Regions from separate parts of the Homo sapiens genome. Here region 1 is linked to region 2. The links come from fine-mapping of genetic effects on gene expression. A gene starts in region 2. The other region holds a variant in brackets. All regions are shown on one strand. Distances are between the middles of the regions. Region 1 has its middle 3.1 kb from the start of FHL5. Region 2 holds the start of UFL1 (UFM1 specific ligase 1).

Evidence for each region. PIP is the estimated chance that this variant, and not a neighbour inherited with it, causes the effect. A credible set is the group of variants that fine-mapping cannot tell apart.
Region 1: its variant is the best candidate, but not a certain one, in a credible set for the expression of UFL1 in whole blood (INTERVAL, PIP 0.57).

Annotation. Positions count from the first base shown.
Region 1 is chr6:96,557,777-96,562,180 of GRCh38, reverse strand. No RefSeq gene overlaps it. Among named protein-coding and RNA genes, the nearest start is that of FHL5, 3.1 kb to the left of the region's middle. The variant C/TC (reference allele first, on the strand shown) is at 2,373.
Region 2 is chr6:96,519,871-96,524,251 of GRCh38, reverse strand. UFL1 (UFM1 specific ligase 1) reads right to left here and starts at 2,446. Exons shown (of 19, transcript NM_015323.5): 1 at 2,302-2,446; 2 at 961-1,106. The coding sequence starts at 2,378. It overlaps UFL1-AS1 (UFL1 antisense RNA 1), which reads left to right and starts at 2,538. Exons shown (of 4, transcript XR_007059687.1): 1 at 2,538-4,381. RefSeq lists enhancers at 1,114-1,985, 2,652-2,841, 1,986-2,857, 2,858-3,729, 3,730-4,381.

The DNA.
Region 1 (4,404 bases), 38 kb before region 2:
AAGAACTTGAGCTAGAGAAATGCAGAGCCAGTTAACTGTATGTTTTGTTATTCACTTGACTTTAATGATTAAGACATTATGAAAATGAACATATGGCGACTAACAACAATAAATTTGGATTCAGCAAAAGGACACAAGTATATTTCATTAGTAATAGATTTTAATCCTTAGGACACCATTGCTAAACAGGTACTGCCTGTATTTTCCTTGTTTTATGGGCAAGGAAAGCAGTCCTTGAGATGTAAAAGTGCCTGGGACCATCACCCTCTTTATTTGCTCCCATGCTTCCTGAGAGGGTAATCTACATCCACCAAGTCATTCCAAACCTACTACATTCTGAGCCTTCTTCTCCCTCCCAACTTATTGCAATCTGTCTTTCACTTGAACCGCTCCAAAAAAGCTTCATTAAGATCATATACAACCTTGATTAGCAACCCAAAGAGTATGGTCTTCAGTCTTACCGAAAAATTCTCATCTCTGGCCATGTCTATTTCTTTCTGAAATTATCTTCCCTTGGTTTTGCTATGTTACACCCTTCTGATTTTCTGTTTGCTCTTAGCACCCTCACTTTCTCTCTATTCACCTCACTCTTCCCTAGAGCTTTATCTTCTGTTCAGTATGCTTCTCTGCAGACTTTCCATCACGTTCTTCATCAAAACAATGAACAATTTTATACAACATGACTCCCAAATGTGTACTTTCATCTGATACCACTCTTCAAGGTTCCAGACCTGTATCCCGCTATCTATTAGAAAACCTTGTCTAGGGGTCCCCAGCCATCTCAAACTCAACAGTCCCAAATATCCTTATTGTCTTCTCCCCATTCCAAACTTGTTAGTTTGCTGTATTTCCTACTTCAGGGAATGGCACAATCATCCACCCCTTATGTTAGAGTATTCCCTTTCCTCATTTATCCTCCACCATCCCCATCATTGTCCACCTTCTGTAGGTTCTAGTTTGTTAAATGATCTTTCTCAAATTTGTCCTCACCCCTGCATTCCATGTCTCACATGTCTCACTCAGATTATTCTGTCAGCCATAAAATAACTGGCATCTGCCTCAGCCTGATCCCTTTCTATCCTTCTCTATAGAAAAATATTATTTTTAAATAAGTTTGTTAAATTATAAAATACATGCTTCTTGCAGATAATCTGGAACAGAAACTGGAAAACATATACAGAAAATGTAAAATGTAAAATGATTTGCAATCCAAGACAGCCCAGACCAAATCTTTGTGTACCTCTTTAGGCTTTGTATCATTCATATATTAATGATACAGAGAAATGCTAAAATTTTTTGTAAATATATTGCATAACATAGTTATGCAGTATATTTAGTTAGAAAACCAAGACCACATTGTATATACTTGTAGAAAGTGCGAGATATTTTTCTTTTCCATTACTAGGTTTATGGTTGAGGCCCCTATAAAAAAAGGCAAATTAATAAAAGTATACAAATTATTTAATGTAAGTTTTTATGGGACATGGGAGCCTTTCAGAAATGAAGACTCAAAGCAAGAGATAAACGTGTGTATTTTTATGCTTAGATTTGATGAAGAGTGGATAGTCATGGAAAAGTATGACTGGACAAAGGGGATATAGTCTAATGATTATACACTCGGGGGAACTTAGCAAGGCCTGTTTGTTTAGACTCTTCTTTGTGTTCCTTTCTTCCAGGCATAGGGAGGTCTCTTGAATGAGGGTCTTATGACCTGCCTCGGGAGAGAAGGGTAAAGGGAAGGTGGGAATGATCTTCCTGCTTCTGGAGTTTTCTCAAACACCAAGGTGCCATATTTTAGCGTAGTGCATCCTGAACCCCATTATAAATCTGTATCCTTGTTTTCACTTAATATACTGTAATTTTCCAAGCCAATAAAATATTTTTTATTTTATTATTATACTTTAAGTTCTGGGGTACATGTGCACAACATACAGGTTTGTTACATATGTATACATGTGCCATGTTGGTTTGCTGCACCCATCAACTCATCATTTACATTAGATATTTCTCCTAATACTATCCCTCCCCCAGCCCCTCACCCTACAACAGGCCCCGGTGCGTGGTGTTCCCCTCCCTGTGTCCATGTGTTCTCATTGTTCAACTCCCATTTATCAGTAAGAACATGTGGTGTTTGGTTTTCTCTTCTTGTGTTACTTTGCTGAGAATGATGGTTTCCAGCTTCATCCATGTCCCTGCAAAGGACACAAACTCATCCTTTTTTATGGCTGCATAGTATTCCATGGTGTAGATGTGCCACATTTTCTTTATCCAGTCATTCACTGATGGACAAGCCAATAAAATATTTTTAAAGTGGCTATAACAAATAGTTGCTATGTAATAAAATACATAATGGAATAGCTCTCCTTTTTTTT[C/TC]TCTCTTTTTTCAACACCAAAAGATACACTCAGCATTTAAAACATACAAATCACAGGACTGAGATTAAGACTGAAAAGAGGAAAGGAGAAAAATCTAGAACATTGACTTTAAGTACATTTACATTTATTAGGTTGTATTTAAACAACAATATGTTCTATGTGTCAAGTCTTCAAGTTCTTACCCAACTCTGAAGTCTGTATGATAGAATTAGGTTAAGGACTGCATTTTAGATGAGTAAAGACAGGCTCAGTAGTAAAACAGTTTGACAAAGCACTTTTACTTCTTTACATTGAGTAACACAAAACATGAGACAACCTTTGAGACTTTTGTCTTAGGTTGACTAGTCAGATCGCAGTTTTTCTTTGGCAGACTAGTATCTGAATAGACTATTTCAGAGCCAAGATTGGCCTGTTTCTGTGCAAGAGAAGGTGTCCATGTTCCTCTCTACTAGAGGCTGGGAAAAAAGACTCGTATACATTTTTTAGTCATTTTAATTCTCAGAAAAGGAAGACATTAATTTCACGAATAATATGTACATTTTAAAGAATTTTGGTAAATTGCCAAATTGCTTTCCAGAATGTAATTTTTTTAGAAGACAAATGTAATTACTTAATTTCCCTGGTTAGTTGAATCTTTTAAAGGCTTCCATGTTTTTGAGATAGTGGTTGAACTTTGTAGCTTAGTGTTTAAGGCATTTCAAAACCCCCCTATTCTCTCTACTTTATCTTACACTACTTCCCCAGATCAGTTATTATATTTCTCAGACTTCTTGGCTCCCCACATCTCATTATTTCATTCTAATTAGCGTCATAGTACTTCTGTACCTCCTTTTCTCTGCCTTAATATGCTCTCCTTCCCTTCTCTCATTTTCACCAAGGCTAATCCTTCTTTTTTTCTCTCTGGACTCTTGGTTCAGGTGTTATTTCCAGCCTCCCCATTGTGCAACACAGTCTAAATTTCATTTCTTGTCACAACACCCTCTGTGTACTTTTACCAAGACACTATATTTAACTGTAATTATTGACTTGTTATTTCTTTGAAAGTAAAACATACCTTTAAAGTTGATATGTGCCTTCCTAGTATTTAGCTGTCATACACGATCGAGTAAATTAGGCCAAGTCCATAAATTCACCATGTTCTCCCTTTCCTCCATTTCACCATCAATGTAATCCTGTCTTTCCTGCTCCTTAAAACAAACACCCAGATTGTCTTACTACTAATCACTTCAGAGAAATAGAGATGCAACTAGGGGCAAGTTTGATAAAACAAATAATACAACACTGGGAACTTATAAACATTGAATACATGTTTACAGTGGTTATTCCTTCTTTTTTATGATGTAAGTGTAATACAAATTGTTTTTCTGAAAGCCTGAAAGTCAGTTTCATTCTTAGAAGGTTTGAAAGAAGCCTCTCCTGGATCTATTTATTCTGTTGTACGCTTAGTAGGGTCCTCAAGATAGAGCAACTTGTGTGAATTTGCAGGTCATTTAAATAGCCACTTGAACAGTGCTCCCAGATTTGTGTGGAAAATGTACATCCCAGGGGAGTTTTGTGTGTGCATTTATTACATCTCCCATGTATTGGGGGAAATTCTTCATTGGTCTTAGTGAAAGAAAGTAAATCTTCCATCCTCTTACTCCCTCCCAACTCACATCAGTTACTTCTTGATAGAAAAAATCCCATTTGTTTCTGTGAAATGGTTTGGCTGTGCCTCCACCCAAATCTCATCTTGAATTGTAACTCCCATATTTCCCATGTGTCATGGGAGGAACCTGGTGGGAGGTGATTGAAATGTGGGGGCAGGTCTTTTCTGTGCTGTTCCTGTGATAGTGAATGAGTCTCAGGAGATCTGATGGTTTTAAAAAGGGGCGTTTCCCTGCACAAATTCTCTTGTCCACCGCCATGTGAGATGCGCTTTTCACCTTCTGCCATGATTGTGAGGCCTCCCGAGCCATGTGGAACTGTAAGTCCAATAAACCTCTTTCTTTTGTAAATTGCCCAGTCTTGAGTATGTCTTTATCAGCAGCAT
Region 2 (4,381 bases):
CAAATACACACCATTAGCTGATGGCTAAGTCTTCATGGCTGAAGCCATAAGCAATAACTTACTTTCAATTTTTTTTTTTTTTTTAAATAACATCAGGCCAATTATGAGCACCAACTGGCACACAAATTGGCTCTATCTATGAAGGGTATTCATTTCCCTTCACAATTCAGAATTTATCTACTGTGATCAAAGAGATATTGACAACTAAATTAAGATGAACTTTTTTTCAATTATTTGATACTAAAAGGTAGGCTTCTACATATCAGCATAAGAAAATCTGTTAAGTAATTCAAATTATAGCTCATATTTTAAAGGTACTATGAAGGAAAATAGATAAATAAAAAAAGACAAAGACCAATGTTACACTCTGATAATATGAAGAGAGGCTTTCATAATTGCTTCTATTTTAATCAAATAGTATTCAAATATGCTTGGTAGTCTGTTCAAATTTTAAGAAGACAAAGGAAACCAACTTTGTGCGTGTTTTTAACAGCATTTCATACAATATGATTGGTGTAGCACCACACTGGATTGAGTTACCTAATTTGTAAGTACAAGTAAGCCTTAAAAAGAAATACAGCCTTGATTTTCAAAAATCTATAATCCTGTAAGATACTGTCCCCCTTCACAATTACCACCTAATAAAAGGCAGCTGAATACCCTTCCCTGAGTCATGCAATAAATTAATGAATTGTAAAAAGAAACAATTAATTCATGTATAGTACACATAACTCAAAATGATAAAATATTTTAAGTGACAACATTTGAGTTCATTTAAATTATATGACCATGTTTGCATGAACCCAGTAAAAATATTAAGCCTGATTATCAAATTAACAATTGAAAACGATATCTTACAATCTATAATTTAGTATGCAATTACATGTTTACGGGTTTTGTTTGTTTGTTTTGCCCCTTCCAAAAATCCAAGAAAAAAAAAAACACTAAAGAATTACCTACCACCTCGGACATGTAGCTCATCTCTCATTTCTTTACTAATTTGGGCTGGAGTAATATATTCCTTTCCATCGAGTGTATGAACTACTTCTAGCTGTTTCTGAGCAATCAATTTATTAACAATCTCAATGCAGTTCCGCTCGGACAACCTGAGGGAAAGAAAAAAAGTTGTTTCAAAAGTCCACTTGAGACATTGGCGCTCAATAAAATTAATACAATGTATGAAAACAGGCTTTTAAAAAGTTTGTTTAGTCACTAACTTCTACATCACAATATCTGTATTTTTCACTAACTGATTCAATAAGTTAAAAAAAAACCTTTCAGAGTAAGTAGGTTTACATATGCTTAAATCATTTATTTAATTGGTACACATCATCCCATCACAAATTTCAAGTCTGTTGTCTCTTACAGGCCTGCTTCCAATCTTCAAATCTGAAGGGAAAATTGAAGACATTTATTTAGGTAGGAAAAAAGAAAAAACAAAACAAAACAAAACAAAAAATGCCCTAATTTCCAGTTTAATCAGAATTTTCTTTTAAATTAAGTGCATAATTGCCTCACTTACACACATGGTCTGCAAGCAGGCAGGGGATGTGGCCTAGTGAAACCATAACTTTTACCCACGTTAGTTACCCATGCAGTTACGAGTTTGCTATCAGTGGTAGAAAATACAGCATAAGGGGATTGCTGTCTTCCGGCTCAAAAGGAATAAAACATCGCAGGTAGGAAGTAGTCAAAGAATAGAAAGGCTTCTATTAGCGTTATTTTTAAAAAGCAGAGTTAGGCTCCTCTGGACACATCCTCCAAAGGTTAGTGGGCTTGTAGAAAATGTCAGTGCCCTGAATAACAGATGGGGTCAGGGGTCTAGCCCTAGGTCTGTTACGAGAGATAAAAGGGCAAGAAGTTTTAAGGATCAACATACTATTTGCCAAGTACTGTACTGGGGGCGGGGGTTAGCCTCTCCTTTCGAGCTCATTCTAGATCAGGAAGTGTATAATAGCCAAGATGTCACAGTGATTTGGTGGTTGGTGGGTGAGGGAGGGTCAAAGAAATGCTCAATAAAGGCAGCTCGAAATCACCGGCCCCGTCCATGGTGGGGCGGGGCGCGCCAGCATTTCGCTGCAGCTGGGCTGGGGGGCTCCAGGGCGTCCTAGGCTGAGGACTTTCCCGCCGAGCCTTGGACTTGGAACTGCGATCCAGGCTCGGGACAGAGGGAGGAGGAGAGAATGGTGACAAGCAGCGAGAAGACCCGGGATGCAGGGCCGCGGGTCTAAAGTCCCAGATACAGGCGTGTCCGCCCACGGCCTAATTTGGGCTCCACAAAGGAGAGGGAGGGTCGGGCACCTCTGCGTGGCCTCGGCGAACTGCGCCCGCTGGAAGTCGGCCGCCAACCGCCTAATCTCTTCCCAGGCGTCCGCCATCACGGCCTGACTCGCAGTAGACGCGGAGGAACTGCAGACACGTCAGCCGACAGGCGGTGGGAGAAGAGAGGCGGAACGGGCCGCGCAGAGGGACAAGAGGCTCCGCCCCCGACGCAGACACACCAAACGCTTGCGCCCGAGGCGCGGGGGGCGGGCGGAAGTGCCGTGGTTGTACCGCGGCGCTGGGGGTTCCTCCCGGCGAGACTGGCGGGGCTGCGGCGGCTAGGAGAGTGGTGCGTAGGTGTTTCTGGGGGGGTCGTGGGCAGGATGCAGGGCTCAGTAAAGTTTAGTGTCAGAACTTTGTTTGCGCTACCCCTAATATTTCCGTAGAGTAATAGTTGTATTAACTACTTTTCTTTTTTCTTCTGTCCTCCATTTGTTTTGGGGGAGGGTGCGGAGGAATAAGCCTGTGTCTAAGATTGGCGCCTCTCTTCTCTAGCTGTTAACTCTGAGCATTCCCTTTTGTATAGGGTATCGTGTTAATTTTTACATGCACCCAGAGCAGTCTGCCTTTTGGAAGATACATGGGAGACCCTACCGAAAGTAATTACTTTTTTTTTACAGAGTGAATAAATTTGCGTGTCATAAAGGCTGTATAATTGCTTTCGTGTCTAGAGTTCTAGAGTCTTTCGTATTTCTCTTATTGCAATGATTAACTTCATCAAATAATGAGGAATATAAACATAAGGTGCATGGCTATCAAGGAAACAGGGAAAGCAAAGAGAACATGTATCCTGCTTCCCTGTTGAGTAGATATTTACTCAGGTGTACCTTTCTTTTTTATATCTTTTTTATATCTTATGAATTGAAAATAAATCATGGGACCCCCAAATCACTAAGCTAAAGGGAAAAGTCATACTGGGAACTGCTTAGGGAATCCTGCCTCCCATTCTATTCAAAGTCACCCCTCTGCTCACTGAGATAAATGCATGTCTGATTGCCTCATTTGGAGAGGCTCATAAGAGAATGCAACTGTCTGTTATCTACCTATGACTTGGAACTTCCTCCCCACTTGGAGTTGCCCCGCTTTTCCAGATCAGACCAATGTTTATCTTACATATATTGATTGCTGCCCCATGTCTCCCTAAAATGTGTAAAACCAAGCTGTGCCCCAGCCACCTTGGGCGCATGTTGTCAGGATCTGTGCCATGTCATGGATGCAAGTTCTTAACTTTGGCTAAATAAACTTTCTGAGTTGATTGTGACCTGTCTCAGATATTTGGAGTTCATGTATCTCACTCTTTACTATTTAAAAAATATTATTCCAGTTAGAAAGAATGAATAATATCAAGTATTTGATAGCACAGCAGGGTGACTAGTTGTCAGAGGCGTTTGAACTAGAGCAACTCCATCTTGAATAGGGGCTGGGTAAAATAAGGCTGAAACCTACTGGGCTGCATTCCCAGGAGGTTAGTCACAGAGTGAGATAGAAGGTCCACAGGCAGGAAAAACAAGTCATAAAGACCTTGCCGATAAAACAGGTTGCAGTAGTGAAGCCAACCAAAACCCACCAGAAACCAAGATGATGAATACAGTGACCTCTGGTCGTCTTCACTGCTCATTATATGCTAATTATAATTCATTATCATGTTAAAAGACACCCCCACCAGTGCCATGACAGTGTACAGATGCCATGGCAACGTCTGGAAGTTACCTTATATGGGTCTAAAATGGGGAGGAACTCTCAGCCCTGGGAATTGCCTACACCTTTCCTTGGAAAACTTGTGAATAATCCACCCCTTGTTTAGCTGTAATCAAGAAATAACTATAGGTATCCTTAGGCCAGCAGCTCAAGCCGTTGCTCTGCCTATGGAATAGCCATTTTTTTTTTCCTTTGCTTTCTTTATAAACTTGCTTCACTTTATGGATTTGCTTTCAATTCTTTCTTGTATGAAATCCAAAAACCTTCTCTTGGGGTCTGGATTGGGACACCTTTCCGGAAGTACAGTCAATAATAATTCAATTGTACATTTTAAAAAACAAAGTACAAGTGGATTGTTTGT